Linked DNA regions of Homo sapiens: regions 1, 2 and 3 are each linked to region 4. The links come from fine-mapping of genetic effects on gene expression. A gene starts in region 4. Each other region holds a variant in brackets. All regions are shown on one strand. Distances are from middle to middle. Region 1 holds the start of LINC03016 (long intergenic non-protein coding RNA 3016). Region 2 overlaps C1GALT1 (core 1 synthase, glycoprotein-N-acetylgalactosamine 3-beta-galactosyltransferase 1). Region 3 overlaps C1GALT1 (core 1 synthase, glycoprotein-N-acetylgalactosamine 3-beta-galactosyltransferase 1). Region 4 holds the start of C1GALT1 (core 1 synthase, glycoprotein-N-acetylgalactosamine 3-beta-galactosyltransferase 1).

Region 1 (7,696 bases), 74 kb before region 4:
ACTAAATGAAGAGTGAGGTCCTTGAGGAATGAGCTTTTCCCCGTTTTGTTAATGGGGGAGGCTAATATTCCTGAAAGATAGCTCTAAAATGTTGTCAGAACAGTCAAGAGTTAACAGCAATTGTCCATGGCTCCAGAAGCCTGATTGTTACTTGTCAAATTGCTTCCGGTGTTCTTTCCCACATGAAAGAGGGGGGTGACTGACTGGCTATTAGGGCAATAGGGGATTTGATGTCTGTTTGACCACACCCCAGCCTCCTGGGTGTGATTTTGATTTATATTAAAGCTGACAAAATGAATCAAATGTTTGCTGACCTTGTGTATATAGAATAGCTTGGGTTGGATCTTGAGAGAAATTACCTGTTGGAGAGGGGAAAGAGAAAGTTACCATCAACACTCCTGATTTTATTTTATTTATTTTTTTTTTTGAGACGGAGTCTCGCTCTGTCGCCCAGGTTGGAGCACAGTCGCGCGATCTCGGCTCACTGCAAGCTCCGCCTCCCAGGTTCGCAGCATTCTCCTCCTTCAGCCTCCTGAGTAGCTGGGACTACAGGCGCCCGCCACCGCGCCCGGCTAATTTTTTTTTTTTTTTTTTGTATTCTTAGTAGAGACGGGGTTTCACCGTGTTAGCCAGGATGGTCGTGATATCCTGACCTCGTGAGCCGCCCACCTCGGCCTCCCAAAGTGCTGGGATTACACGCGTGAGCCACCACGCCGGGCCAAACACTCCTGATTTTAATACATCATGCCATAGGATGAAGTTAATTTTTAGCTCCGTTGAGAGGAAACAACTACCATCCTGCCGCATAGTAGAGAGTCTGGAGAAAAACAGTGTCAGCTGAAACCTCTACTTTCTTTAATTTCATTAAAAAATTGATCTCATTGATGCCATCAACTGTGCTTCTGGGTAAAGTCGCTGGTTCACATTTTCAGTTTCAATTTCCCTTGCTTCTCTTGCTTCAGTTTCAGTAGCAACAGGAAGTTTGGGTAATTCTATATCATTTAAATGTGAAGAGGAAGAAAGAAAACCCTTTATAAACACATCCTGATGAGTGAGTGTCAGAAAATTCTATGCAGAGACGTGGAGTAATCAAAGAGCAAATTCAGAAAATATTCTCTAAGTTTAGGATTTGTAGACTACTGAATTATAAATTTATACTGATTAATACATAGCAAAGGTTACATTAATATATTAAATCATGAATTTATATTATCTTGAGGTGATTGACCCTATGAGGTCACTTATAAATTGATTTTATGAGCACATAACACTTTATCTCTTTCCACCCTCTAAGTCTGTATATTATTAAAATACAGAAGACTAGACTTGATGTGTTTCAAAACTTCAGGCGCAGGTTAAGTTCCACCACTCAGTTCTGCTTCACTTGTTCTCACTCTGAGTCACTCAACCTCTGAACACGTTTTTCATTTGGTCAACTTATTTGAGCATTTGTCCAAGTAGCCTGAGTGGGTCTAAGTATAAGACATGAAATAAAGAGCTTGACATGGCAGAGACTGTCAGACTTTCAGAGAGAAAAAACAGTTTACTTAAGAATCTCAGAAATAGCTGGTCATGTCTAAGTTAGGGTCCCTAAGAAAATACAGGTGATTTCACTTTGTATTTCCCCCATTCCTTTCCCCCTTCCATTTCCGAAATTTGGTATTTTGAAAAGGATGAAGATCGATTTGGAAGTAGCTTACTTTAAAAAGGAACATAGTAACAGGAAATTGTAAAGTAACATTCTGTTAGGTTTCAAGGCTGATTTGTGTTAACAAGCTGACCACAGCCCTAAGACATGCTTGAAACCCTTAGTGCAGGGAGACAAAATAGGAACAGGGCTGAGCCTGATGCGGCCTCATTTGGGTTTGGTTGTTGCTGCCCCACTTGTAAAAACAATACAGACTGCGAAATAGACAGTCGTCCCTCAGTATCCTTGGGGTACTGGTTCCAGGACCCCCTCTGATACCAAAACCCATGGATGTTTAAATCTCTTATATAAAATGGTATAGTATTTGCATATAACCTATGCTTATCCTCTTGCATACTTTAAATCATCTCTATAATACCTAATACGAATGCTATGGAAATAACAGTTATACTGTATTGTTTATATTTTTGTCATATTATTTTTTATTGAATATTTTTGATCCACGATTGGCTGAATTCATGGATGTGGAACCCACAGATATGAAGGGCCTGATTGTACTAACTGATACCAGATCATTAGGCAATTCTCTTACTGGGGCTGCAGATCCAAAATCCAGACCACGTTTCTCTGAGTAAAGGTGTAATTTCCTCTGAAAAGACTAAATGTTTTCACTGCCAGTTTCCCAGGGGAGAGGTTGGTTCAGCAGGAATTTTGGGAGGAGGGTGTCCAGAGTGTTAGGTGAGTGGAAACCTTCCTCATTTCTTTTAGTGCAGATGTCAATTTGGCTCCAATTCTAAAGAAGTGCTGATAACTGAAGGTTTCTAGTGGGGTAGCTGAACTACCTTTGGTGACCTGGAAACAGGTAGCAAAGAGGGCAGAGCAGTAGCCTGGTAAGGGTGGAGAGGATTCCACTGGAGCTTGGCCGCTCTCATAAAGTACTATCTGGACCCTTTCTTTCATTATTCTGGAACGGTCAGGAAAGTCTGGTCTCTACTGTGGGCAACAAAGAGGAAAATAAGTCTTTTCCCCAGGGTCAAACAAGATGACAGAAGTCACCAGCAGAAGATGGTAGTGCCCACTGAAGCAGCAAGTTAACTGGAGTCACTGTCCCTAGGAGGCAGCCCAGGAATGGGCAAGAGGGCAACCCATTTCTGGGTACACATTACACTGTACCCTGGGAACCGCTGAGGATCACGAGGGGCATATTTTAAGGGTGGCTATTTCTGCCAGTAATGCTGGAAAGCATTCATGGCATAATGCCATGATATGTAGCAGAATCCACCACAGTGTCTGTACGAAATGTTTAAGTAGGTAATTCATTCTGTCAGTTATTAAGTGTTATGAATCTGAAATCATTAAAACAATGTACTGCACAAGAAATAGGCAGATAAGCAGACCAGAATACAGTTTATACACAAACCGATAATGAAATATCATGGGGTAATGGTGATTTAAAATAAATGTTGAAAGAAAGGATCGTCAAATAAAGTGTATTACAACAAACGGGTAGCCATTTTCCTACCTCACTCCATATAAGAAAATAAATTCTGGAGGGATCAAAAATATAAACACAAAAAATGAAACTATGAAAGTAAGAGGAAAACATAAGCATATTATAAATAAACCTTGGTGTGAGCAAGACACACAATTCAATAGCCCTAAGAAAAGATTAATTGGTTTGTGTGGGGAAAAAACAAGTACGAAATAATCATAACAGTTCTAATACATATAAATAAACCAATATTCAGAGAGTTTATAAAAATTTTTAAAAACCCTAGTAATTCAATATTAAAAACTGGCGAAGATGAAATGCAAATTACCAATGTATAAAAAAAACTCAAACCTTAAGTACAAATCAACAATTATCAGATATTAATGCAGTGATAAAACTAGTAAGTTCAATAATCAAAAACTTTGGTAAAAGGGGCAGGAAAATATACTCGCAAATGTTGAGTAGTAGTATAAGGTAGTACAGTACAGTTTAAGAAGGCAATTTGGCAGTATCTATGAATATTTAAATGCATACATTCTTTATCTCAGCAATTACTTGCTAGGAACTTATCCTATGGCTGTACCCACACAATCATTTCAAGGATGTTCAGTGCAGCAATAATTATAATAAAAGTATCCAACTCAATTATCAATAGAGGAATGGCTTAAAAATTGTGGCACATCCATACAGAGATCTAGTTAACTATTAAAAAGAATTATCTCTAAGTTATTAAACAGTAAGCA[G/C]AAAAGGCAAGGAGCAGAATGATGTGTTTAGTTTGGAAATGAGTACAGTTCTGTTATTTTCTGTTTATGGCTGGACAAAGGGACTGCTGGGTGGGGCTGTAGCAGATTATAGCTTTTCATTTTATATTCATTCTCTTTTACCAAGCACATACATTACCTTTGTATAAAAACTTAAAAATATTTTTAACAGGAAAGACATTATCCTCAAACCATGCAGTAATGCCCAACTTGAATATATTTATTCAAGATCTAAGGAAGGAAATTTCAGGGGTACTGGAGTTATTGAAAAATAAACCTAAAAACATGCCAATGAAAGAAAATGGCTGTGGGTCTCAGAAAAAAATGGTACACTGACTGCACCTGGGAAAAAACTGGAACTCTCGAAGAATTGAAGTTAACTGGGCTTTGGCAAATTTGTGAATATATCGACTCTTTCACATGAAGTTGTACCTGAGCCTTATTCTTTAAATCCAGTTCAAATGCCACAATTTCTTTGAAACTTCTCAGATCCCTAAACACTTAATATACAGTCCTCTTATAGTTCTTTGTAAATACCTCTATCATAGTCCTGAGGAGGCTATTTGTTCACTGGCATGTCAGCCCCCAACCCAAATGTGAGATCCTTCAGGCAAGCCTTAACCACAGGTTTCGCCCTCCTTTCTCTTCTATAGCTGACAAACCATGAGCCTGGTGAAAGTTTGTTGAATGGGTGATTTAATGACTGGAGGAAAAAAAAGAGCTGTTGCTTTTTTTGGATTTTAGGATAGAAAACTTGTAACTTGACATGTAAATTAATTATTAACTAACTCGACACAGTTTTCTCCTTACCAGTGTTAGGCACGACCCTACCTTTGTTTTGTCATCAGAGATCACTTGTTGCTTCAGTAACCAAGAGCACTGAGCTACACCAAGTGACAGTGCTTTGGAATGTCTAATGGTCACTGTAGAGAAAAGGAACCTGAGCTCTCCTCCCTAATAGCAAATACACACAATCTTCTGCCCACACTTGAGGTTTTGTTCTTTTTCTGGACTGTATTCTCCAACGTAAATGCGAGGTTTTTTGCCTGATGGTGTATGATACGTGGAGTTCAAATCAAGATTTTCTCAAGCAGAAAACCTGTTTAGGAGTCCCTCCATATCTATGAGAAAAGCATTTTGTTTAGAGGTCTCCATAAAAATGAAACAGAAGAAAGTAGGGGGCATATGGAGAACTTTTCTTCATAGTGAAAGGATGCTCACCATTTACTTCCTTTTAATTGATATATAATGTACATATTTATGGGGGAGAGAGTAATATTTTGATACATACAATGTATAGTAATCGTATAGTAACCTTTTTAAACTTTTTTGTTGTGGAGATGGAGTCTTGTTGCCCAGGGTGGACTTGAACTCCTGAGCTTCAGCCTTCTGGGTAGCTAGGACAACAGGCATGCAGCACTACACATGGCTTTGTTATTTAAAAAAAAAAATCCTATTATGTCCCAGGCACAATTGGAAACAAGACAGATTTGATCTCTGATAACAGTGCCTGGCAACTATTAGGATCGTTCCTAGAATCTATTTGCAAATGGTGGGAAAAGGCAGGGACCAAATATGTGAGTTCTATCTAGCAGTACAATGGGTCAAAGAAAAACAGAAAGAATGAATAAGATCTAGTATTTGATAGCACAATAGGGTGACTATAGTCAATAATTTAATTGTGTATTTAAAAATAACTAAAAGAGTATAATTGGATTGTTTGTAACACAAAGGATAAATATTTGAGGGGATGGATACTCCATTTTCTATGATGTGATTATTACTTGTTGCATGGCTGTATCAAAGTGTCTCATGAACCCTATAAATACGTACACCTACTATGTACCCACAAAAAATTTTGTTAAAGTACATAGCTCAGGTTGTTCAGGGAAGATAAGAAATTGCATTTAGTACAAAGACCACTAACCTGGGAGTCAGGAAAATTGAGTTCTGTTGCCACTTCTGGCATTATTTGTGTCATTTTTCTAAACTTTAACATCTCTAGATCTGTTTCTGAATCTTTCAAACGAGGCGTTAGAACATCTTTAAGCTCTAGAAATCAGTAGTCCTATATTTTTATGTGGGAAAGGGCTCAGTGTCTTCTATTTCCATGAATAAGAGAATAAGACTTAAGCCAGAACAGATCTAAGAAAGATATGAAAATAATCTGACACAAGGATTTGAGAATAAATAGTAACTTCCGAGTACTCTTCACCCTTGGAGTAGAAGGAGAGAAGGATGCTAAGACGGGTCCACATGAGGCTGCTGGTCCTTTGTATGGGTCAACTATTTACCACTCTTGAAGATGGATACCTCCTTCATCTACCCTCATTATGAACTAGTTCAGCAGTCTTTATACCCTTGATTGAAGAAAGTAATTTCTTATGGCAAGATAAAAGAATCCAAATCAGCTTTGAGATCTTTCCAGCTCATGTGTGTACCTGCTTACCTCTACTGCTGCTTAAGAATGTCTGTGGACATTCTTCACCACTGGTTGTAAAAACCCTAGGGAGCCAGGGCCAACAGCTTTTTTTTCCCACTTTACTTCTCTAAACTGTGACAGTATAAACATGATTTTTTAAAAGTTCAAAAAGGAAAACAGTGAATTATTGAATTTCTTTCCAATCCTAGTACCCTTCCCCAAAGGTACTGCCAACAGTTTTTGTATATTCATACATTTATAAGTTAAATCATATTTTTCCTTATTTGACATCATATCTATGTTTGGTCTTAATTCTGTCATCTATTGTAAATTCTCCCTTTAGCTCTCTTATATGGCCTGTGTTATCTTTAATTTTGTGTTTTCATTTTAATAGTTATCAGGCTTACAGTTTTGGTGATTACCTTCATAACTATTCAGAATATTACATCCCTATTTCTTGATATATTATCAATTTTACAAAATTTCTATTCTGAAAAGTAAAACCAATTAGGGCATGTATATATTACCTCGTCTTTGATATTCTATTTTCTAACTTGTTAATCATCTTTTCTATATCAAGATTTATAACATTTCAATATGCTTCCATAGCCTTATTTAAATAATTCTATAGCTACATAGTTAAATAATTAACCACCACCAGTCCTGTTCTCAATGTTTGTCCATTTATCTCTTTAGATGGGCTTCATCATCTAGATTTTTCAAGAAGTGTCCACCCTCACTCTTTCAATTTACCCTTCCATTTGAAATCACTTGGCTTCTTCCTCCCCCAAGAATCTGGTAGAGTTTGCTTCACTCTGCTTTAGCACTGAATGTTGCTACAGAGAAGCCTAAGTCCAGTCCGTTCTTCCTCTCTCCATCTCCCCCTCCCAAAGAAATCACTCAATTTTGTTGCTGCTAAGATGACATTCCCCTCTCCCTGCCCCCAGGACAATTTGCAGATTTTGGCCACATCAAGAGCAACTGTATTTTTTTGAAATTATAATGTTAAAATTAGCATTTGTTACACGATCTCACTTTAATAAAACCATTTCTATCTATTTAGCTTCCTATCCAATTTATATTTATGCATTAATTGGAATTACTTTGGGGGGTGGTGGGGTTTGGGGTCCTTTAAAAATTTTCATCTTTGAAATGGTCATCTGCAATGAATGTTTAAGTTTTTTTTAAAATAATGGAGCTTATCACTTTTTCAATGGAAAGATGACTTATCTAGTAAAAGCTGGTAGTAAATACACAAGATACAATGATGCGTACTTTTTTGTACGTTTTGAAGAAAAACTAACACAAAAGAAAAATGTTAAATGTTTAAAAAGAGGAAACAATTTCTCAAACACCTCCTCTTGATTCTGACA
Region 2 (7,696 bases), 48 kb before region 4:
GTATACATAACCGGAGTAAAAATTCTGGTAACATTTAGCTATAACGGAAAGTTAATTTCTAACAGTATTTAGCTATTATCTATGAGTTTACCCCTCTATTTGCTGCTAAAACAGCACATTATGGAAAATCCATAAAACCAGATTAATTAGTAGGACAGTCACAGTTGGGGTGGGGTATGGATGAGTATGTCAGTATTGCACACAGAATTTCCTATTCTTCCCACCAGGATCCTTTGTGGATCCAGGGCTTCCTGTCGTGTTGTTTTTCTTTCTTTGCTGTTAACTCTGAGTACGGAAGTCTACTTCTTTTTCTCTGGTAGCAACCACCACCCCTTCTCCAACCCAAAAGTTAGCAAACCCTTTCTGTAAAGAACTAGAAATAAAATATTTTTGGCTTTTTGGGTCTCATGTGGTTTCTGTTGCATCTTCTTCTTAAACAATCCTTTATAAACGTAAAAAAACACTTGTAGCTTGTGGAGGACTAGGGTCAGCACAGTTTGAGGACCCATGGACCAAACCTGGCCTGCTACCTGTTTTTGTAAATAGAGTTTTATTTGAACACACCCATGCCCATTCATTTATATACTGACTGCGGCTACTTTTGCCCTAAAACAGCAGAGTGAATAGCTACAATAGAGGCAATATGTCTCACAAAACCGTACCTAGCCCTTTATAGAAAAAGTTTGCTGGCTAGGCACAGTGGCTCATGCCTGTAATCCCAGCACTCTGGGAGGCCAAGGCGGGTGGATCACTTGAAGTCAGGAGCTTGAGACCAGCCTGGACAACATGGTAAAAAATTAGCTGGGCATGGTGGCATATGCCTGCAGTCACAGCTACTTGGGAAGAATAAGGTGAATACTTGGGAAGAATTGGTAAGAATAAGGTGGGAGAATCACTTGAACTCAGAAGGCGGAGGTTGCAGTGTGCCAAGACTGCACCACTCAACTCCAGCCTGGGCAAAAGAGTGAAACTATCTCAGAAAAAAAAAAGAAAAAGTTTGCTGACCTCTGCTCTATACTGCAAGATCTAGATTTTGGATGGAATCTATAATATTAACGAGATTAAGTAGGGTACCTGGGACACAGATGCCTGTTGAACTGCCCCACAACCAAACATTGACATAAACGCCCTTTTTAAGCTTTTGTTAACAATTACTATATGGTGAAGTTATAAACTTCTATTAAATTCCTTAAAAGATTGGTCTTAACTCTAGTTTCCTATTCCTCAAGATAATTAAAAAAATAAGTTTACTAAGCATTTATTATATACCAGAAGCTGTCCATACATTATTTCATTTTAAATAAAATTTAATTTCAATGTCCTTTTTCATTCTCACTAAACCCGTCTGCAGATGAGGAAAGAGAAATTTTAAAAAGGTAATTTTAAACAGGTAATTAATTCATATAGGCTGACACAATCAGAAGGAGCCACAGTTTGAATGTAGGTCTGTGTGCTTAAAAAGCCCATGCCCGGCTGGGCGTGGTGGCTCACGCCTGTAATCCTAGCACTTTGGGAGGCCAAGGCGGGTGGATCACCTGAGGTCAGGAGTTCAAGACCAGCCTGGCCAACATGGTGAAACCCCATCTCTACTAAAAATACAAAAATTAGCCAGGCGTTGTGGTACGTGCCTGTAATCCCAGCTACCTGGGAGACTGAGGCAAAAGAATCACTAGAACCTGGGAGGCAGGACTGCAGGACCGAGATCATGCCACTGTATTACAGCCTGGGTGACAGAGCAAGACTCTGTCTCAAAAAAAAAAAAACAAAAAAAAAAAACCCACGCCCTTTCCATTACATTTCTCAAACTCTTCACCTAATCACCACTAACAGCAGAGGGCAATGGGCAGTGAAAGTAGAGGTCTGGGAAATATAACCCTAAAAATCAAAATTGCTTTGAAATAGTTTGTGAAAGCAAAAGTACAAACCAACAATCACCACTACAATAATAAAAACAAAACAACTTCATGTATTTCTGGAATGGCTGACTAGGTTCTTTTAGTACAACCAAGTGCAATCAGAAAAACTGAACAAAATGTAAAAAAATATAAATATGTGTTTGAAGACACTGGTAAGATATCAAGGCAGTGAGAATTAGTAGGGCCAAAATCTGGAAGAAGGAAGGAAAGAGGCAGACCAGACATCTGGCACTGCTCTATCCTCAAGACAATGACTGATTCTGAAAGAGAAAACAGCAAGGGCAATAAAGCTAAGCAAAAATTAATGTCCAAAGTCTGCTTAGGAGAAGAGGTCCTGAAAAACACCTATGCTCTTATCAAGGACTCTGAAAGGCTACAATCTGAGAATAAGAACAAAACAAAAATAGACCAATCTTTACAACGGCTGAAGTCTACGTTAGAGTCATCTCAGCCACTGACTGGATGATCCGCCCTAGCCTAACTGTAAAAATATTCTCCTGGAGAAATATAAAATCATGAAGAACCTCAAATTATCATGACGACTTTTTTTTTTTTGGTATACAACATGGACAAAATTTTGATACACAATGTCCAAAACAACCAGGCATCAAGATGAAAATTACGGCTAAACACAAAAAAGTAGACAATAGAAACAGAGCCAAAAGACTCAAATAAGATTTTCATATTTTTAGCTTAGAAATAACTATTCTTAATAAAGTCAAGAAATTAAATGGCAAGATTAAGAAATTAGGCATAGAATAGTCACAGCTGAAGAAAAAAATTAATAACCTAAAAAGCTAGGTCAGAAGAAAATACGCAGAATGAAGTATGGAAAAACAAATGGATTGAAAAAGAATTGAGCAAAAAAACAGAATAAAGTGAAAGGGTCTAATGTAAGTGTTAACTGGAACCTTTGAGGGAAGAGACATAACTCAGGAGAAGTGGTATTTAAAGAAATAATGACTGAATATTTTCCGAAACTGACACAGTACCAACCCTCACATTAAAAATCTACAAAACCCAATGAAGATTACAAAGAAAAAGAAAATGTTACCTAAGTACATCAGTCAAACTACTGAAAACCAAGGACAGAAAAAAAAACTTCAAAGGTGTAATAAGATTGACAGCTGACTTTTTAGCAGCAACAACAGAATCAAGACTGCAGTGAACTATTTTTAAAGTGCTAAAAGAACAGAACTACCAACCTAGCATTCTGTATCCAGCAAAAATGTCCTTCAAGAATGAGCCTTAAAAACATGTTCAGAAAAACAAAACCTAAGTGAATTTATCACTAACAGTTCTATTTCTAATTCTTCAGGCAGAAGGAAAAGAATTTCAGATAAAAATTCAGAGATGTAGGAAGGAAGGGAGAGTCATAAAAAGGGTATGTATGTAAGTAAATCCAAATAAATATTGGCTATAATAAAACATTTTTTGAAAGTCTCACAAGATATTAGTATTATTACCATTAAAACAAATTACAAAACTGGCATCAAAAAGTATAAGGAGGATCCATAGAGTTTAAGAGCTCTAAAGTCATTTCACTGTCCAGGAGTTGTTTAAAAAAAAAAAACTGATTAATAATAGCCTTTAAAAGACCAAGGATGTCTAATATAATCTTTAAACAAACAAACAGTAAAACAATATAATTAAATTCAAATACAAAAAAATGAAATGGGAAAATACCCCAAATCAAGGCAATGTTAAAAAAAAAAAAAAAAAGGGAATATAGAATAGATGAGACAAATAGAAAATAAATAGTAAGGTGGTTGATTTAGAACCAAACATATCAATGATTATATTAAAAGCAAATAGACTAAAAACTACAATTAAAAAATAAAGATTGCCAGCCAGACTCGAGAAAAATAAACTCATCTACATGCAGCTTACAAGAGACACATATTAAATAGATTTATAAAGTTGAAAGCAAAATAATAGAAAAATATACCATACAAACAGTAATTAAAGGAAAGCTTATTGATACCACAAAAAAAACTAGTAGTTACATGGCTTGTTCTCTGTGACATTCATTAAGCTCTACATTTATGATTTTACATACTTTTCTGTATTAACATTTATTTCAGTAAAAAGTGTATACAAAAACCCATTCATGTGTCTTTATCCCATTAAGTACATACTTAATATATTCATATTTGATATAAAAATATCCCAAAATCTACAAGTAAAATTGACATGCCATGACAACACACCATGCTTATGCTGCATTATATATCTTATATTTCAGGCTCTCTCCTGAATTGTAATTCCAGTTTGGGAAGAAAAACCCTAAGAGGAAGAGGAGAGGTGAAGGAACAGCACAGTATAAGCAAAGCTGCCCAGTATCTTGAGATGTAAATTAACCATCTGAAACTATCAGATACATGTTTACACCTTTTGCTCTATCCTGACTGTACCTTCAAGTTCAGAAAGGTAGGCCTTCATGGATGATGAGTACATAGCCCCACTCAACGATCCTTCTCTCTACACCCAATCAAATTTGCCACAGGAAAACCAGAAACAAGTTTACCATGTCTTTCTGCTGTTTTCTCTGA[T/A]GAGGGGGTCTCAAATTCTGCCTCCCTACTGCCCCCTTTCCCTCATTCAGGTTGGCCGTTAGTGTAATCTTTATATCCAAAAGATACAATAAAACATATCCCTCCTGTCTTAAGTGATTGTTCTGAAATTCTAAATATCTCGATTGTCTGAGGACCAGTTCATTAGACCTTGCTCTAACCAGAAATCTTGGTTTGAAATTTCATTCAAACAGCCAGAGAGAACTGATTAGTCAAGTATCTGTTCGATATTATACAAGTCCTTCCTTTAGCAGTATACATGATCAAGACAATCTACAATAGAGGTATGTGATATGAAAGTACCATGAATTGAAAACATGAAGCCAAGAGAAGTAAATGAAAGATGTTTTAACTCTTAATTTCTTATGGAGGAAGACAAGCAGAATACGATTGAAGCAGTGAACCTGGAGCATTAGCAGATACTGAGTTGTCACTCTCTACATCCTCTGATTCTCTCACTAACACTTTGCCTTACAGCACACTGATCTTGGTTTTCCATTGCTTTTTGTCCTAGCTGTGATTTTGCCTTAATACCATACACAGCCACTTCACCATCTCAGAAAAGAACAAAGACAGTATTTTACTGCTGCAGAGTCTACCGCTCCTGGCACTGGAGAAGAAAGCAGTAGTCACAATGCCATTCAGTACCACTTAGGCAGAAAGCACTGTGACTGAGAAGAGGAAGGACTGCAGGACCAGAGAAAATTCCTATTTCTATCATCATATGGATATCTGAAGTTAAAGAAGTGCTAACCCAGCTCCATCAACTATGAATACTAACATGCTACTCAATCATATTCCAAGGACATGCTGAGCTTCAGAACAAGCCTACTTCTATAACACAAAAACAGTTACTGTTTGTGGAAAGCTACTGAAGTACTTATGGACACAGTTTTTCTTAGCTGAAGAGGCACTTTTTAAGCAAGGCATCTATCCTGGAGTGAATGTAAGGAAAACTGACTTCTTGGTGTTACGTAATTGTTTTTAACTTTAAAATGTTTTGTGATGCTGTCTGATGCCTGTCATACTCTCTTACTCTTCTCCCCCAGAGTATCAGCACACTCAGAATGTGTTGGCTCCTCTTGTGTTGTGTTTACCACATTCCCTTCCAATTTAAAGGACTCCGGCCTTATGACTAAATAACTGTAAACTCCCATTTTTTTTTTTCCTGCTCCTGGGATAAAATAGCCATCTCATGGGGGTAGAATGCATCCCAAAGCTCACTCAGATTTTTGGCAAAAATCATGTCCACAAGAGTGTTGAGGTAGACTAGACTGGAAAAAGACACAGCTTAACCACACTGCACATTATGAGGGCTTAAATACTATTTCTTTGAATTGGGTGGGGGAAGTTCTTTATGCCAAGTGCTTCCAAACCTGATGTGTAATCAGAATCGCTTGAGGATATTTTAAAAGTACAGATTTCCAAGCTTGACAACTGAGGTTTCAGATACAAAAGAACTCCCGGGACAACTAAAATTTATATTTTAATTTTATTTTTAAAGGGACAGCTTTATGCTATTCATTGTTAAAAAAGGATTTAGAAGGAAGAAATCATCACAAGTCCTACTACCCAGAAACAACAATTATTAATATTTTGTGATTATCATTACAGGTTTCTCTCTAGCAATAACAAAAATAGGAGAGGTAATTACAGTTAACATTTGAACCCTGTACTAAGAGCATCTGCAAACTATAAAGTACGGACTAGTATTCCCATTTACAGATGAATTCAGACACAGAGAGTCACACTAGCAATCTGAATCAGGAATTCAGACTCTTAACCACTTTGCTATTATGTCTTAGTCCATTTTCTGGTATTTATAACAGAACAACTGAAACTGGGTAATTTATAAAGAGAAAGCATTTATTTCTTACAGTTACGGAGGCTAGAAAGTCCAAGGCCAAAGGGGGCACATCTGGTAAGAGCCTTCTTGCTGTTGAGGACTCTCCTCTGAAGAGTCTTGAGGTGGCACAGAGCATCACATGGCATGAGGGATACGCATGCTAACGTGTTAGCTTAGGTTTGTTCCTCTTCCCTTTTTTTTTTTTTTTTGAGACGGAGTCTCGCTCTGTTGCCCAGGCTGGAGTGCAGTGGCGGGATCTCGGCTCACTGCAAGCTCCGCCTCCCGGGTTCACGCCATTCTCCTGCCTCAGCCTCCCAAGTAGCTGGGACTACAGGCGCCCGCCACTACGCCCGGCTAATTTTTTGTGTTTTTAGTAGAGACGGGGTTTCACCGTTTTAGCCGGGATGGTCTCGATCTCCCGACCTCGTGATCCGCCCGCCTCGGCCTCCCAAAGTGCTGGGATTACAGGCGTGAGCCACCGCGCCCGGCCTTCCCTTTCTTTATAAAGCCAAAACAGTTCCCTTCCCATGATAACCCATTAAGTTATTAACCCATTAATGGATTAAACCATTCATGAGGGCAGAGGTCTGTCTCATAAACCAATCACTTCCTTAAAGGCCTTGTTAATATTGCCAAACTGGGAATTAAATTTCAACATGAGTTTTAGAGGGGACAAATATTCAAACCATAACCCTACAGTTTTACAGAATGGGAATTATATTAGTCATCTCGTTTTTAAAGAATTAACATATTAGATTTATTTGAATTTATAGGAAATAAAGGAATCTAAAAAATCTGAATGTCACCTAGACATCTGTAATATGACCCCCATCCTCTAAAGGATCCCTCTAAAAATTAAGAAAAGTTTACAAAAAAACAGAAAGGAGTTGGAGGGCTCATTAAATAAGCTCAATTTTAGGCACTATCTATTGATTTCTTGCTGTGAAATGTGGAAATCAGCATGGATACACACATGTACAAATATATATATACACATATACATACACACACACTCCCTCTGCCACAACCAATTTTTGTTAACTGCTTTTATTTGGTAAAAATGTACATAGTTTACATTATATGAATTATGAACTGTAATTCCATGACTGCTTAATCCTGGATCTACATTAAACTAGATTCCATGCTCAACAAGAGTCCTTTTTAATCACAACTCCTCTAAATTTGAGTTTTTCATTAATATCATGTTTTTGTTAGCTGGGTTTCAGCAAGCAGTTTTTTTTAATGGCGCTAATCGGTGCCACATCTGAAATTCTTGCAGGCTTCAGAATGTCTGCTATTGCACAAACTTTCTTCTCCCTAAGAACTTTGTAAATATTACTCCATGGTCTTCTTACATGGGTGCC
Region 3 (7,696 bases), 63 kb before region 4:
ATGTTACTTCCTAGTCTTCCTTAATACCCCATCCAGAAAATTGTTCTGATAATATTTTTATTTTCCTAATACCACTCTATGAAATACTTTGTTTATTCATCTACTAGCTTATTTTCTAACTCTAGAATTAAGACATCCTGTATGTCTTGCTCACCACTGTATTTCTAGCAGATGCCTGGCATAAGTATTTGTTGAATAAACTAATTTCTCAGTGTATGAGATAGATCAAAATATACCAAGGAGCACAGAAGCAATCTCTCTCTAAATATATGAGATTCTCTCCCCTCTTCCACCCCCACCCATCTAGACACACTTACCTAGACTACAGTGTTTCTAATTTTTTTACAGTATATTATTCTCAGTCAGAGGTGGAATATTTTGTTGCTTTAAAGTAAATAATACATATATTGCAGTAAAACTTATGAAAGCCAATTCAAACTAAATAGCTTTGATGGGAAAACAATTTTAAACTTTTGGAAAAATAACCCCAAACTACCCATAAAAGACAACATTTATCTCACAACTTTTATATTGGTTAAAAATAATCAGATGAAACAACTTTGAACATGGCAATTTATTTTATGCATTATTTAAATCCGCTGTTTAAAAATGTTCAAAAGGCACTTCAAGAAACATTTAAAAATACATTTTTCTGACTTAATGGTGATCACTTAAAAATAAGCAAGTCACCAGACATTTTTAAACCATTCGTAACACCATTACCTTAAATAATTTTTAAATTCCAAAACACGAACATTCACTATGTAGTACAACACACTGCTTAGCAGTAAGATTAGTTTCCCTCTAATAATATACTTCATGTAGATTATTAATTTGCAGGGCCCCGCAAAGTTATTAAAACTTAATATAAACTGAAAACTAGAGAGGTAAGGGAGTTGAAATAGAGCAAAATTCAACTCTAAAACTTTAATGTTGGTTGCTCTAAAGAGAATTTGTAAAATTCCTTATTCTAGCCTGTATTAAAGTTTTTATTTCAAATCTTATATATAAACACATTTTTAAAAAATCAACAGAGGTTACATTAACATTTAGCATAAAATCTACCACAGGTTGCCTCCCAGATTGCTTCACTATGTTTCTGTCAGGCCTACTATAAAGTAGAAAAATAAAATGAGTTTTGTTTTTTGTTGTTGTTTTTGAGAAAAGGGTGAGTGGAAGAACCCAAATAACTTTACTTCCTTTAATAATTGTAGACATAGAATTAATTTTAAATTATAGATTTTTAAGTAGGGCAAGTATCTCGAGAGCCAGCAGGCATTATTCTTAGACTTTTACTTTCAATTTCATAGGGAACCCTAGTTAGTAGGCTTAAAATTATCAATTAAGTGATAAAAATTCTAATCACTATTAACAGCCAAATTAACCTTGTGAAGGCAGCATTTAAGAGTAACTAGAAAATGGAAGTTAGTAATAAAGCAAACAAAGAAGGGCAATAAACACCAGGCAGAAACTGTCAAAGAATTATAGTCTAATGAACTGAAAATTGAAATGGCAAATAAAATGCTAGATGTAATTTAATCAAGGGATTCTTTCAAGTACAGTGCATCAACCTGGTAGTAACTATAGTTTGACAGTCTCAAAGAAGTGAAAAATTAATATTCAAGAAAATTGTGAAAATAACCAGTTAGCAAATTTACTGCTCAAATCCAATTCTGTATTCAAAAAATATTAAGAGCTGATCAATGATTTATTTTCATACCTCATTACAGTAAGAAAAAGCCCTCTGAAATTTATATTTGAAAGCAAACTGGGACAAAAATCTGCTTTATCTATGAACTTCCCACTAGAAAATACAAGCATACCATTATTAGAGAACATAAGACATCAAAAGCCTTATGTTTTAAAACCATACTGAAATCATTTACCAAATAACAAAGATCTTAATCTAAAAGATAGTGAATACATCATCATCATGAAATCTGGTTTTATGTGCTCTATGAAGTACTTGGAGAATTGCTTTTTTATTTTTCTTTTGCTTTATTAGGTCACACAAAACAGAATGAATTAGCAGAAAAATGTATGTTATAAAACAGCATTTACTACTTCAATTTAATTTTTTTTACTAACAATTGTGGACCTTTTTGATGACACTTATGTATGTTTTTAATAAATTATGTACTTATTAGTACTTAATGAGCCCTTCCTGCCTCAATATAAAATTACTAAACTTGGAGAATTACAGATTTTATTGTAGGCCCTGATGTTAGTCACTTTGGAGAAGCTAAAAATTTGGCCAAAATGAATGATCCAATGATCCTTTAAGTTATCTTTATATTTAATATAGTGTGATCCTGGACTACACTGATTTAAAACATGCTTTTTGAAAAATGTCTTAGTAATTGGGCAGTAATCTTCAGTGTGTTTCAAACACTACTTGCACCAAAATCACGTAGGTTGTTGGGTATTGGTTCTCAAACTAGGATAAGAAAGACACCTGCAGAGTTTGCTTAAACACAACTGCTAGCCCCTGCCCCTGCCCCTGCCCCTAGAGTATCTGATTTAGTAGATCTGATCTGAGATGAGGCCCCGAGAGAGGCTGCATTTCCAACAAGTTCCCAGGTGACGTTAATGCTGTTTGTTGGGACCAGACTTTTGACAGTCACTGCCCAAGGTATCTGGTAAGAATGCATACTCTTGGGCCCCATGCTTAAATTTGAATTTCTGAGATTGGGGTCTTCAGATCTGCATTTAACAACATCCTGGGCAAGTGTGAGAACCACAGTTTAAGAATCACTGTGACAATTTGGCTGGGTTAATTTGACTATTACTGGCCAATGCATCAGACGTCATATATCATATACATAAAAATGGAAATAATGCTACATGAATAGCCCCAAGCCTGATACGGTTCCAATGAACACACAGGGTTTTGAATATAAATCCTACCTCTGTTACTTACTAGCTTTGTGACAGTGACAAAGTTACTTTGTCTCTGAGCCTCAGTTTCCTTATCTATAATAGGGGTATAACACCCAAATTTTGAGGATTAACACTATTATACACAGATTATCTAAGCACAGTACCTAGCATACAGTTGGCATTGGATAAATACTAGCTATTACTTATTTCCTTCAGTATCTGGTCAAAGCAAATTTTTCATTCACTTAAATGCAGTACTTACACTCCAAGGTAACAGAATAATAATACAATCTTCTATTTATTGCTCCCTATCAATGTTCTAAAAACCTTACATTTATTTAATCCTCATAAAAATCCTGTGAGGTAGGTAGTATTATCATCCCTAATTAAAAGATGAGGAAATTGAGACACAGAGAGATTAAAATTGCTCAAGGTTACAAAAACAGTAAGTGTTAGAGCAAGAATTTAAACCCAAGCAAGTCTGACTCTAGAGCCCAGGATTCATCACAATATTCATTTCCTATGAGCAAATCTCAAGGTTTTTGGATATCTATAGTAAACCATTTATACTTCTAGTCAAGTAACACATATGAAAATTCATGTCCACACCATGGTGAAGAGTTGTTCAAAGAATAAAATGAATGCCTTGAAATTTTGGCAGATGATACTACCATGATAATAGGTAAAAACTGGTGCATGTTTTCACTACGTGGACAGAGTAGTCCATGGTTAACCAATGAAATGAACATCCTCTCAAATATACCATTCAAAGAGGTCATGATTTTGACATGTTTTGGCACAATAAATAGAAATTACTTAGCCGGGTGCTGTGACTCACGCTCGTAATCCCAGCACTTTGGGATGCCAAGGTGGGTGGATCACCTGAGGTCAGGAGTTCAAGACCAGCCTGGCCAACACGGCAAAACCCTGTCTCTACTAAAAATATGAAAACTGGCGGGGCGTGGCAGCGCGTGCCTGTAATCCCCGCTACTCGGGAGGCTGAGGCAGGAGAATCGCACCACTGCAGTCCAGCCTGGGAGACAGAGTGAGACAGTCTCCGAAAAAAGAAATTACTTAGCTAAATAGCAGAGTCAGTGGCATGACTGCCATGTAAAATTGGCATAATGATAAACATGAGGGAAATGTAAATACTTTGTACCATAAAAATAATCTCATAGAAAGTCTGTAAAATATTCTGCTATGACACTCAGTACTGCTAAAGATAATAAAAATAAAAAATTTCTTTCCTTTCAGAAACTCTTTAAACAGAGTCACTAAAAATAGAATGAAACATTTGTGAATGTTTTTGATGACAGTCTTGACTAGGTATTCTGCATTGTTAGAATTATCCATTAGCAAAACAATTATCCCAAAATAGCA[C/T]CAACCTTCAGACTGTTATTTATAAATTAAGTATCTACTCTTTCAAAATATAACATTTTTGTTTAAGCACTCTACATTTTCTATTGTTTTTAATTCTCATCAAAATCTTGCTTTCTAAATAATCTTGCCACTGTAACTAATAGCCACCTCAGATCCTATAAACTAATTTTAAAACTCTGCTTTAAACAAGTTATGAAAGGCACAAACAAGTTCTCATCCCAACAGGATGAGAATGAAATAAACCATAACTATGTAGTTGGAAAGAGTTTAAAATATCAATTTAAAATGTCACTTAGTAATTCCTGAGAGTGGCACTGTTATAAGAAAAGCATCCTGAAACAGCATTAAATTTATTATTAGTTACCCATAATGAACAATGGGCAAATTTGGGAACAAATATGTAAAATACATGTTTACAGAATGCTATGAACGGTTTGAGTAAATTAATGTTAATAGTGGAGAATGGTATTCAAGAGTGGCTAAACACATTTAGAAAAGAGACAACAGAGATTGCGTAAAAGATGACTAATTAGAATCAAGTATATAATATAGTCAAGGCCCATGATAATTTTAAAGTGTGGTTTTATTAATGCACTTCAGGGTAAGTGCCAGTCTTATTTTAGCTTCTTCTGGAAGAAATACTACCAATTATAAATAATCACAGCAACATTTTCATTAGACAAAAACTGTGTGTGTGGGTGTGGTAGGGGGGTATCATTTATAGCATACTGCAAATATAAACTCAATTCTTGAGCTATATTAACAACACTGAGCAACAATATTTCTTTCTAAAATTTTCTTTTCTTTAAGGCAGATCTGTTTATTACTAACATGGTGCAGTGTAGTTTTAGTAAATTTACTATTTTAGTTTCTCAGTGACAATAACACAGATGGTCAGAAAACAGGCAACAAAATCTCTTTTCTAGTTCCTCTACCTGGCCACCATTTAAAAAACACAAGTTCCTCATATATATAGACATATTTATATATTACTGTATCAAAACACATTTTAACACACTTCACAGCTCATTTAAAGCTTCAGTTTATAGTCATTCATGTGAAAGGTTTCTATAAGGAATGTTCACTTAGAATTCCTCACTGGGATTCCAGTGTTCTATGTCAGAAATGCAGAAGTCCTTTTTCAGTGCAGTGCTAGACATATTACCTTTGTTCATTCATGATTTTCTTTCAAGGATTTCCTAACTTCACTTTTGTATCTTCATTTTTGTTTGCTTGACTAATTTCCTTTAGTATACGTTCAGGTAAGGTAGGTTGATATCTGTATAAATAACCATATGGACGAAGATGATAAACGAGGTATTCTAACTCATACATGGTTGTAGAATCAACATAGTGAAAAGAAACTGCAAGATCAGAGCAGCAACCAGGACCCTAAAAAAGTAGTGGAAACAGGTATTGTTAATAAACAGCACATTGCTAGCTACAATATTTACATACTTATAAAGGACCAGCTAATTTTAAAAGAATACAAACATTAAAGATGGCAAGGTAAAGCAGAGGAACCTAATGTACTAGACCTGTGGAAGAAATCAATAGTTTACTTAGACATCCTAATGATTTAAAACCAATTGAAATTGGTGAAACCAAGTGAAACTGTGGAAAGTATTTTTAAATGAAACAATATTCTCTCACACTCTTTAGCGGATAAAATTACTGAGATTTCTTCAAATCAAAGGAGCAGCTATACAAGGAGAAATCTCCTTCTCCAACATCTGCTTTCTCTTCCTCATTTTCTCACTGTAATTTTTTGTGTGGCTCATACTCGGAAACATACCTCTAGGGCATTCAATGACTACAAAGCCTTGCCCATTAGGTGTCTACAACCCAATACACTTCATCTATATATGTATCAACCCAAACAGTACAGTATTTGAGACAAAGCTCTCAACCTAGACTTGGGTTTGAACCCAAATTTTGTGGGCTAGTATACGACCTTGAGTAAGTTATTTAATCTCTATAAGCTTTAATTTCCACATTTGTAAAAGGTGGTTATTTAAAGGAGACAATGTGTGTAAATTACCCTTTGCTTAAAATAAATGCCCAATAAATGTTAGCTATTATTGACTGAAAAATCATATCAGGTGGCCCTAAGGTAGGTCAGATTTAAACCTTTGTCCAGTTATGTAATTCTCATAAATTCCTAATAGGGTTGGTATGAGAACAAAGTTTAAAATAAAACAACAACAATACAACGAACAAGAAAGCAAGAAAATTAAGAAGACAGAAAAAGAGATGAATTAAGCAGTCAACCTAGAGTCAGAATTGGTATCTGGAGAATGTTGGTGTCATCCAGGTGACTCCAACAAAACTTCAGGCTCCATCTGACATCTTTGTAAAGAATGAGGGAGATAGTCTGGCAAGTTCCAAGAGAAGATTCATATTGACTGAATATTTAATAAATCTAATAATTTATGTTTGGAAGTATGTAGCTTACAGTGTGTAAAAATTATCAAACTGTCCACTGCGTTTTCTCTGCTGTTATCTCTAAACTTTCCTTTGAAACACACACTGGATATGTAGATTCTTAGACAACCTACTCTTGCACCTTTAGGAAATATCAGAATAAAAGCAAATAGGAAAAATAACCAGATAAGTCAACTTGTGATTATCTAAACTAGCTCTGTCCAACAGATATGTAAGCCATATAGTAGCCACATAAAAAATGTAAAAAAAAAAAAAAAAAAGTGAAATTTCATTTTATTTAACTGAAAAAGTTCATCATACTGTTTTAACATGCAATAGTTTTGCGATGATTAATGAAACCTTTCTTGAAATTAGGTGTGTATTTTATTTACAGCATATCTCAATTTGGACTAGCCACATTTCAAGTGCTCAATAACCACACATACTTAGTGGCTACTATACTGTCCAGTGCATATTAAACTTAAGGACTAGACCAGTAATAGTTATAAATTGCTGACCTCTGGAAGCAATTTTTATATTCTGTAAAATAATATTTTTGATAAGATTTACTGCATTAATTATATTGCTCTTATTTATTTATATTTTACTGGATGGCCAGGATTCTGTTAAGCATTTATGCAATAAAAGACAATAAAAGTAAAAAGCTATAATTATTAGAAAACAAGAGCTAGCAGACAATTATGGTTACCCAAAAAAACTCAAGAATCTCAAGTGAAGAATCATCAGAAATAGAGAATTCAGTTACAAAGCCAGATTTTAAAGATGCTTAAAAAGAAAATCAAACAAATAAGTTTTCATATATATCAGTAAAAAGTTAAGTCTTTAAAAGCCCAAGTAGAACAGTAACAAAAATATTGCATACCTATGGAAATAGTTTATAAAACTTGACCAAAGGACCTAAAAGGTGACTTACAAAAAATCCTGGGCAAAGATGTTATTGTCCCTAAATTAATGAGTTTGTATGCAAAGATAAAGAAATGAGTTGCCAAAA
Region 4 (7,696 bases):
GAACTGGTAGCTTTACAAGAAAGAAAGAAAGAAAGAAAGAGTTCTGGGCTAGCATGCTCGGCCCCCTCACCATGTGGTGCCCTGTGCTATCCTCAGGACTCTGCAGAGTCCCTACCAGCAAATGCCCTCACCAGATGTGGCCCCCTGAACCAGGACTTTTCAGCCTTCCTAACTGTAAGGAATAAATTTCTTTTCTTTATAGATTATCCAGTTTCAGATATTCTGCTAGAGGCAACAGAAAACAGATTAAGACATCACTGATATATGTAAATAAATGTAAGTGTCCCATCCTGTTTCCACTATAGCCTCTGATTCAGTCTATAATGCTAAACATTTACTGAACGATGTAAAAGATAAACCGTGCAACTGTTACAGGTTAAACTGTGTCCCCACAAAAGATAGGTTGAAGTCCTAATTCCAGTACCTCTGCACGTGACCTTATTTCAAAATAGGGTCTTTGCAGATGTAATCAAGTTAAGATGAGGTGATTAGGGTGGATCTTAATCCAATACGACTAGTATCCTTGCAAGAAGTGGAGCACACCATCTGAAGACAGAGCCACACAGGGATTATGTTGTGATAACAGAGTCACAGACTGGAGTGACATAGCTGCAAGCCAAAAAATGCTAAGGATTGGCAGTAACACAACAAGCTAAGAGGCATGGAACAGATTCTCCCCTCGAACCTTGAGAGAGCATGGCCATACCTACATCTTGATTTCAGACATCTTGCCTCCAGAACTGAGACAATAAATCTGTTGTTTTAAATCACCCAGTTTGTCGTATTTTGTTACCGCAGCCCTAGAAAATACAATGACCAAGAATGCAAATAACTATGCCAAGCTGTATTTAATTTCAAATTCTGCCTATTATCCAACATCTAGCCGTTTAAATGTGCTTTAATATACAGGTTTCCCATTCCAGAATCTCCCTAATATTGCCTCTCGTTGCCCCCAACACGCCCCTTCAATGTGCAAGGCAGCACATACTACAGGTGCTAGATAATTTATTTAGACTTTCCTTTCAGTTTCCCCCACCTTCTTATGTGCTTCCCTAAATCACAAACACCAGTTTCTTTATATATTTTTTTTCTCCCTCTTCCTATTCTCACATATTACAGATTTTGGCATATATATTCCCCTTGGACATTTGAATTAGCTGCAAAATAATTTAAGTACACATTGGAGTTCCTCTCTAACCAGATTTTAAGATAAAAGGCTAACTTCTCATTTTATGGAACAAGTCTCCTTCCCGCTCCCCACCTTTCTTCTTTTAAAAGAATGACTTAATCCCACTGAATTTGAAGTAAAAAGATTTTTGTCATACCTTTCTTTCAGCCTTGCTATAGTTTGTACATCAGCGTCTTTAATCAAATCTTAAGAAATCTTCTAAAAGAAAAGATGGTTGTATTGGGAAGCTTAAACTTTTAAGCCTATCTGAATTTAATTTCAGCATCAAGCTTTCCATTTTCTACTTAAGGTTTATTTATAGCTGCACTGTCACAAAAATTCCAATCAATGATTTTACCACACAAAGACTCTAAATTACCATGGCTTATAATGTTAAACTGCATAATGCAATTTTAATTTTAGCACAAATCAATACACAAATAGTAGCATGTGCCTAGTGACATACTTTTTCATATTTCTATTAGGTAAACAAGAACTCATTATGTGTACCCTGAAATAAATTTGTGATACAATTTTAAGAATAACTGGATATTGAATTTACTCAACGTAGTCTAGTCTTAAAAAGCATAATTATGAAAAACTTTAAATAGGAAACACAAAATATTTCTAAAATGCTTAATCCTAAGTAGGAAGATACAAAAAAATACACATTCCAGGCAAATTTGAGAGGCATTTAGTAGCTCTCCACTAATACTGAAAAATTATTCTCTTTATGAAGAATTTTAAATGAGTCATACTTTCCTTACTAAGTCATTGTTTCACTTACCATAAGGTGAAGAGTTAACTGTTTGCTAACTTGAAACTTTATATTCACTTAAACTGTACATCTATATATAAAGACTGGTAGAAAGTATAGTGTACTATATACAATATTTAGAACATACAGCATCATGGGCATTAAGCTCAACTGCCATTTACCTAAGAGGGTGAAAAGCTGTCATCTAAATACCTTCTAAAAACTCGGATTCCAACTTCCCAAACTCACACCAGAATGAAGCAACTTGAAATTATGCGCACTTTTTCCTGGCAGAGCTATGTTCTATGCCCAACTTTTAGTAAGTTAACATATTTCTCTCCCTTACACATCGGCCAATTATTCATTGATTCATTATGGTTCTAAATTTATAACTTTTAAATTCATAATGAAATCAATCCATGGTTAGCACAATAGTTTTCTATCTTAAAAAAGCGTTAAAAGGAAATACAGTAGTATGTACAATGGATATAGAGAACTAGGTTAGAAATCTTGAGAATTTTTCCAGGATGTGTGGGTTTTTTGTTGCTGATACTGTTGTTTGCTTTAAATGCGGGGTGGTGGGGGGTGGGGAGACGGTAAGGACCAGGAAAGAATAAATCCACAGCGCTAAATTATGGTCATCTTTTAAGAGTGTACGACTTACCCAAATTCAAAGCAAATGGACAACTTGTCAACACCTACTAATTCCATCACAATTTGTTGGGGAAAAATGGGGTGCAGAAGCAAAAAAAAAAAATTTAATGCCTTTCTTCCTCCTCCATGCCCCGAATGCCCCAACACACACGTATCTGCTTCACTCTGCGGCAGGGAAACTTAAAGAAATAAATCAGCTACAGACAAACCTGATGATCCAAGCTAGACCCAAGCAAGCTCCAGGCACCTCTGGAAGGAGCCCGCTCGCTGGGCGCTCAGGCGGCGCGGCAGCCGAGTGGCTCCCCGGCGAAGGTGCCCAACACCTGGGCGCCCAGTCCGGCGGGACCCACAGGTCTGCGGCGGGGCGGGGAGGGCCCGGGAGGAGGGACTGGGAGGGCCCGGCGGGGCAGGACCGCTAAGTGGTCCGGTCCGGGCGCACTGCGCGCCCCGCCGCGCCGCCAGGCAGCGCGCGAGCAGAAGAGGGGCGCGAGCGGGCACAAGGGAAGGACCCACGACGAAGAGGAGGGTACATGTCCACAAAATTGAGGCCGGGTACGCAGCCGAACGCTGTGGCAGATCGCTAAGGCTCCGGGAGCGGGAAGTCCTCGCGCCTTCCTCAGGAGCCCGGACGACCCCAGCCCGGCTTTGACCCCGAGACACCTGTTCCGCCGCGCCCGGGGTTTGGTTCCATCCTCCACGCTTCCCCACCAACCCGGAGAGGGGGGAGGGCGAGGGGAGACGAGACCTTGGACCCGTAGCCTGAGGGCGCCTCCGCCGGCCATACCTGACATCAGCTGCGGCTCCCTCTCGCCCCTCCTGGGGGGCGGAGAGGGGGACGACTTGGGACTGGTGACCTTTGCTTCTCTGGGCAGCCGCAGAAGTGGCTCGTGGCCGCTAGCCGAGGCCGCCCGCTGCCGCCCAGATTATTCCCCGGCAGCGGCAGCACAGCGGCGGCGGCCAAGGCGGGCCCAGCGCGCGCTCCCGCCCGCTCGCTCCGCCCCTCCCCGCAGCGCGTCCAGGCCGTGGCCCGCCTATGGCGCAGCCGCCACCCGAAGTCTCCTGGCGCTGACGTCTCCGCCGCCGCACCAGCCCCAGGGAAGGGCGGAGCGGGAGGGGCGGTGGGCGGGGATACGGCGACGTGAGGAAGCGGGGATTGGCTGCCGGGTGCACGCTCCGCCCTAATGCGAAGGGGTCTGGGAAGTCGGATCTTGCACGAGCAGTAGATTTTGTTGTATCCCCCTTGCGGCTTGTGTCTGCTACTCTCCGCATTTCTGATCCTGCTGTAAGGTTATGCACTAGCTTCAAGACCTTGAGCGGGACGAAAGCAGGGTAACAATAGGGAGCGAGAAAGGGGATGCTTGAAGGACCTTTGTCTGAGGTACAGGCTCTAACCCTGCAGGACTCTTGTGGCCTGTAGCCTGCTCTTAACCCGTTCATTTGTTTTTCTGTTCTCTCCCCGTGCTCTCTTTACTCAGTATCTCTCTGGGCTTAATAAAAGGAAGTAATAAGATGAAGTATGCATACGGGTGCTGGGTCATCATGTGAGAACCAGGAAGAGCTGAGAACCGAGATAATGATACCAGAAAGCTTTCTATAGGCACATTTCGTCTTTGGTTCTGTCAGCACTTCGGTTCTGTGGGGCAATGGCCGGAAGAGCTTCTTAGGGGCGTAACAAAACCTATCTCCCCTTTCGCTGGGCTCTGAATAAGGAAGTTGTCTTTGGAATAGGGGGAGGAGGCTGCCACCTGTTGAGGCAACCCCACAATAGTCATGAGGTGAGGGTAAGGTTTAGTCTTTACTGGCGTTAACCATTATCTACAAGACCACGTTCCAGAATAGGAAAGCTACCCTGCTTCCTTTAAATGCCCTATCCAAGCGGTTCTTTAGTACTCTACAGCATGGTTGTTAAAGAGTATGGGCTCTGAAATCAGACTGCCCGGGCTGGCATCTTGGTCCCTCCACCTATTGGCAAGTTACTTAGAATGCCTGAGACAAATAATAATATACATTAGTTATTGTTATTTTTCCTTTAATTTGCTTAGGTTCAGCTGTAGTGTAGTTTCTCAGGACATTGCATCAATATATCCAAAAGAATTGTGAAACATAAAGCACATGTAGTGATTCTAATACAGATGTCTCATTTTTCAGATGACAAAACTAAGGCCAGAAAGATAAACTGATAGGTCCATGTTAGAAGAGAAGTGCAGCTATCCTGATGTCCAGGTTATTGCTCTTTCCTTGGCTCATGGGTCCAGACTTCTCTGCCTTACATGATTACGTCCATTCTCTACTCCTCCCCAACTTGTATACAGTTGTTGCTCAGCCTCCTCCCCCTCCACCTTTCCGCAATATCCTTCCACCTTTCCGCAATATCCTTCCACCTTTCCGCAACATCCTTCCACCTTTCCGCAATGTCTTGCCATCCATTGTGAAACATGGAAGGAGAACTCTTTCAGGGGTCAGTGTTCCAAATAGAAACCAAAACTCACAACTCCTTATCTCGTTTTAATTTTATTAAAAGTTATAATTAATAAAGAATAACACTTTTTTCCATTGAGCAAAGATTAGAACCCTTTCCTAAAATAAGGTCAGCCACAGCCTTATCCTGGAAAATTACTTGCTAGAAACAATACTGGACCAAATCAGCCCTGCCCCCACCCTGCCTTTCTTTGAAAATAGCTTTTTTTTTTTTTTGAAGAGATATGGTCTTTCTATGTTGCCCAGGCTGGAATGCAGTGGCTATTCACAGGTGTGATCTTGGCACACAACAGCCTCGAATAACTGGGCTGAAGGCTGAAGCAATCTTCCCGCCTTAGCCTCCCCAGTAGTTGGGATTACAGGCACAGGCTGTGGCACCCAGCTAATAACTATTGTTTTATAAAAACAATACATGCTTATGCAAACAAATTTAAAAAATTTAAACAAAAATGCAAAGAAGTTAAAATCTGTCCAAATACCATAATATAGAGATAACCATTTCTTAAATTTTGTGTTACATTCTTCTAGGCATCTCTCTAAGAATAAAAGCACATATAGACATATAAATACAATATTTCATAAATTGGATCGTATTATCTGCACAGTGAACAACAGTCATGAATAACATCATTTTTAAAAGTTGCATACTGTCTGTTAAATGGATATACCATCATTTATCCAACCAGTATTCTATTGATTGACATTTATGTTTCCAAGTTTTTACTACCATAAAAAAAGTCTCTGATGAACATTCTTATCCATAGGCTTTTGCACAATTGTGCAATTATCTCCTTGAACACATTCCTAGAAGTGACATTAATGTCAGCCAATTCTTCGACATTTTCAATTAGAGAATAAAAATTGTGGTTACTTTGAAAAATATACTTTATATGTGGGACTCAAAACTGACCAGATTCTCCCATTTGAAACATACTTGAAACACACATAAACCTCAGTATTGTTGTTTCTCTTGTGTCTAGTGTTTAATAATGCATGTCAAAACTCGTTGGAGTAGGTCGGTAGACATTACTAGTTGTCTAAACCAAAATCCTTTCTTCTTTACTAGTAGAACTCTGATTTCTTCAGGGTGACAATGTGGCCAGTTAAAAATATTCATGCCCCTAGACTTTCATAAGTCATGGCTGGCCATGTGACCATCAATTAAATAAAAGTGAATTTCTGTAGAGGAGACTCAAGGAAAGCTTTATGGAAGAAATATCGCTTTAGCCATTTGATATGCACCCATCCCTTTTTTTTTTTTTTTTTTGAACCTGAAACAGGGACATGATACTGGAGGTAGAACAGCCATATTTCACCCATAATAACAAAAGCCACACAGACACTATTAATAGTGTAGGACACCAGAGGTGCCTAGGTCCATGGTTGCTTTGGAGGGCCAACTTACCAGGTCTGGACTATCCACTTCTGGATTTGTTGTTAGGTGAGGAAGATTATATCCCTTCTATATAAGATTTTGTTATTGTCTGTTGTAAGTATCAAATGCAATTCTTAGTTGACATAATAAGATAGGCCAAGTCATCATTTATTTAGCACTATATATAGAATTTTTTAATAGACAGAATGAGGTGAAAATGGTGACAGAAAATGCAAACAAGCTAGCAACAACATTAAAACATTGTCTTCTTTAATAGACTTAGTTTCCCTTTAAATACCTACATTTTACAAATATATTAACACCAGTTTATAATAATTAAGTTAAATTTCGTGTATTAAATTTTATTAACTCATATGGTAGTATTAAAATATGTTCACAAATTATTTGATACTTCTTCCTTCAAAGGGTCAAACTTCATTCCCCTCACCTTGAGTTTGGACTGTATTAAATGACTTGTTCTCATGAATAGAATGTAGTGGAAATGATGTAATGTGACTTCTGAGGGGAGACTATAAAACATGCCAGACTTTTTATTCTTTCTCTAGGATTACTTGTTGGGGCCAGGTAGCTGTTATGTCAGAGTCATAAGGTCACTCAGGCAACTTATAAGGAGGCTCACATGGTGAGTAATTAAGGCTTCTAGCCAACAACCGGTGAGGTATTGAGGCCTTCTGACAAGAGCCATGTGAGTGAGCTTGGAAGCAGATCCTCCAACCCTTCAGGCCTTCAAATGATTGCATGCATCATGGTCAACATCTTGACTGTAACCTAGAAAGAGACCCTGAGACAGAACCATTCAGCTAAGGTGCTCCTGAATTCCTAGGCCACAGAAACAGTGAGATACTAAATGTTTAAATGATTGTTGTTTTAAGCCACTAAGTTTTGGGATAGTTTGTTATACAACAATAGGTAACTCATACAGCTGGATATAATAGAGCCTAGCACAATGCCTGGCACACATGCAGGTGTTCAATTATTTGTTGTTTGAATGAATAAATAATTGAATGAAGTATATCTTTTTCACTTTAGTAGGTAGCATACAATGTTAGGATTATCTTTGCTCCCTGACACCTGTATTATCTAAGGGTTTTTTGATCTCTTATAGAGAGATGTAGTGTGAATCTTACTGAGAGCTAAACTTTGCCAGTTGTGGAAGTAACATGGTGAATAGAACAACGGAATCCTTGAAACTTGAATTCTGCCCCCAGTTGTTTTTCCTCAATCAATTTTTTTTAATTTTTTA

Evidence for each region. PIP is the estimated chance that this variant, and not a neighbour inherited with it, causes the effect.
Region 1: its variant is fine-mapped to the expression of C1GALT1 in whole blood (TOPMed, PIP above 0.99).
Region 2: its variant is fine-mapped to the expression of C1GALT1 in whole blood (GTEx, PIP above 0.99).
Region 3: its variant is fine-mapped to the expression of C1GALT1 in skeletal muscle (GTEx, PIP 0.94).

The regions. Positions count from the first base shown.
Region 1 is chr7:7,252,215-7,259,910 of GRCh38, reverse strand. LINC03016 (long intergenic non-protein coding RNA 3016) reads right to left here and starts at 4,757. Exons shown (of 4, transcript NR_108073.1): 1 at 4,733-4,757; 2 at 315-359. The variant G/C (reference allele first, on the strand shown) is at 3,884.
Region 2 is chr7:7,226,565-7,234,260 of GRCh38, reverse strand. The region is part of intron 1 of C1GALT1 (core 1 synthase, glycoprotein-N-acetylgalactosamine 3-beta-galactosyltransferase 1); the gene reads right to left. Among named protein-coding and RNA genes, the nearest start is that of LINC03016, 25 kb to the left of the region's middle. The variant T/A (reference allele first, on the strand shown) is at 4,469.
Region 3 is chr7:7,241,480-7,249,175 of GRCh38, reverse strand. It overlaps C1GALT1 (core 1 synthase, glycoprotein-N-acetylgalactosamine 3-beta-galactosyltransferase 1), which reads right to left. Exons shown (of 4, transcript NM_020156.5): 4 at 560-5,652. The coding sequence ends at 5,449. Among named protein-coding and RNA genes, the nearest start is that of LINC03016, 9.8 kb to the left of the region's middle. The variant C/T (reference allele first, on the strand shown) is at 4,261.
Region 4 is chr7:7,178,488-7,186,183 of GRCh38, reverse strand. C1GALT1 (core 1 synthase, glycoprotein-N-acetylgalactosamine 3-beta-galactosyltransferase 1) reads right to left here and starts at 3,640. Exons shown (of 4, transcript NM_020156.5): 1 at 3,364-3,640. RefSeq lists silencers at 2,851-3,070, 3,291-3,900.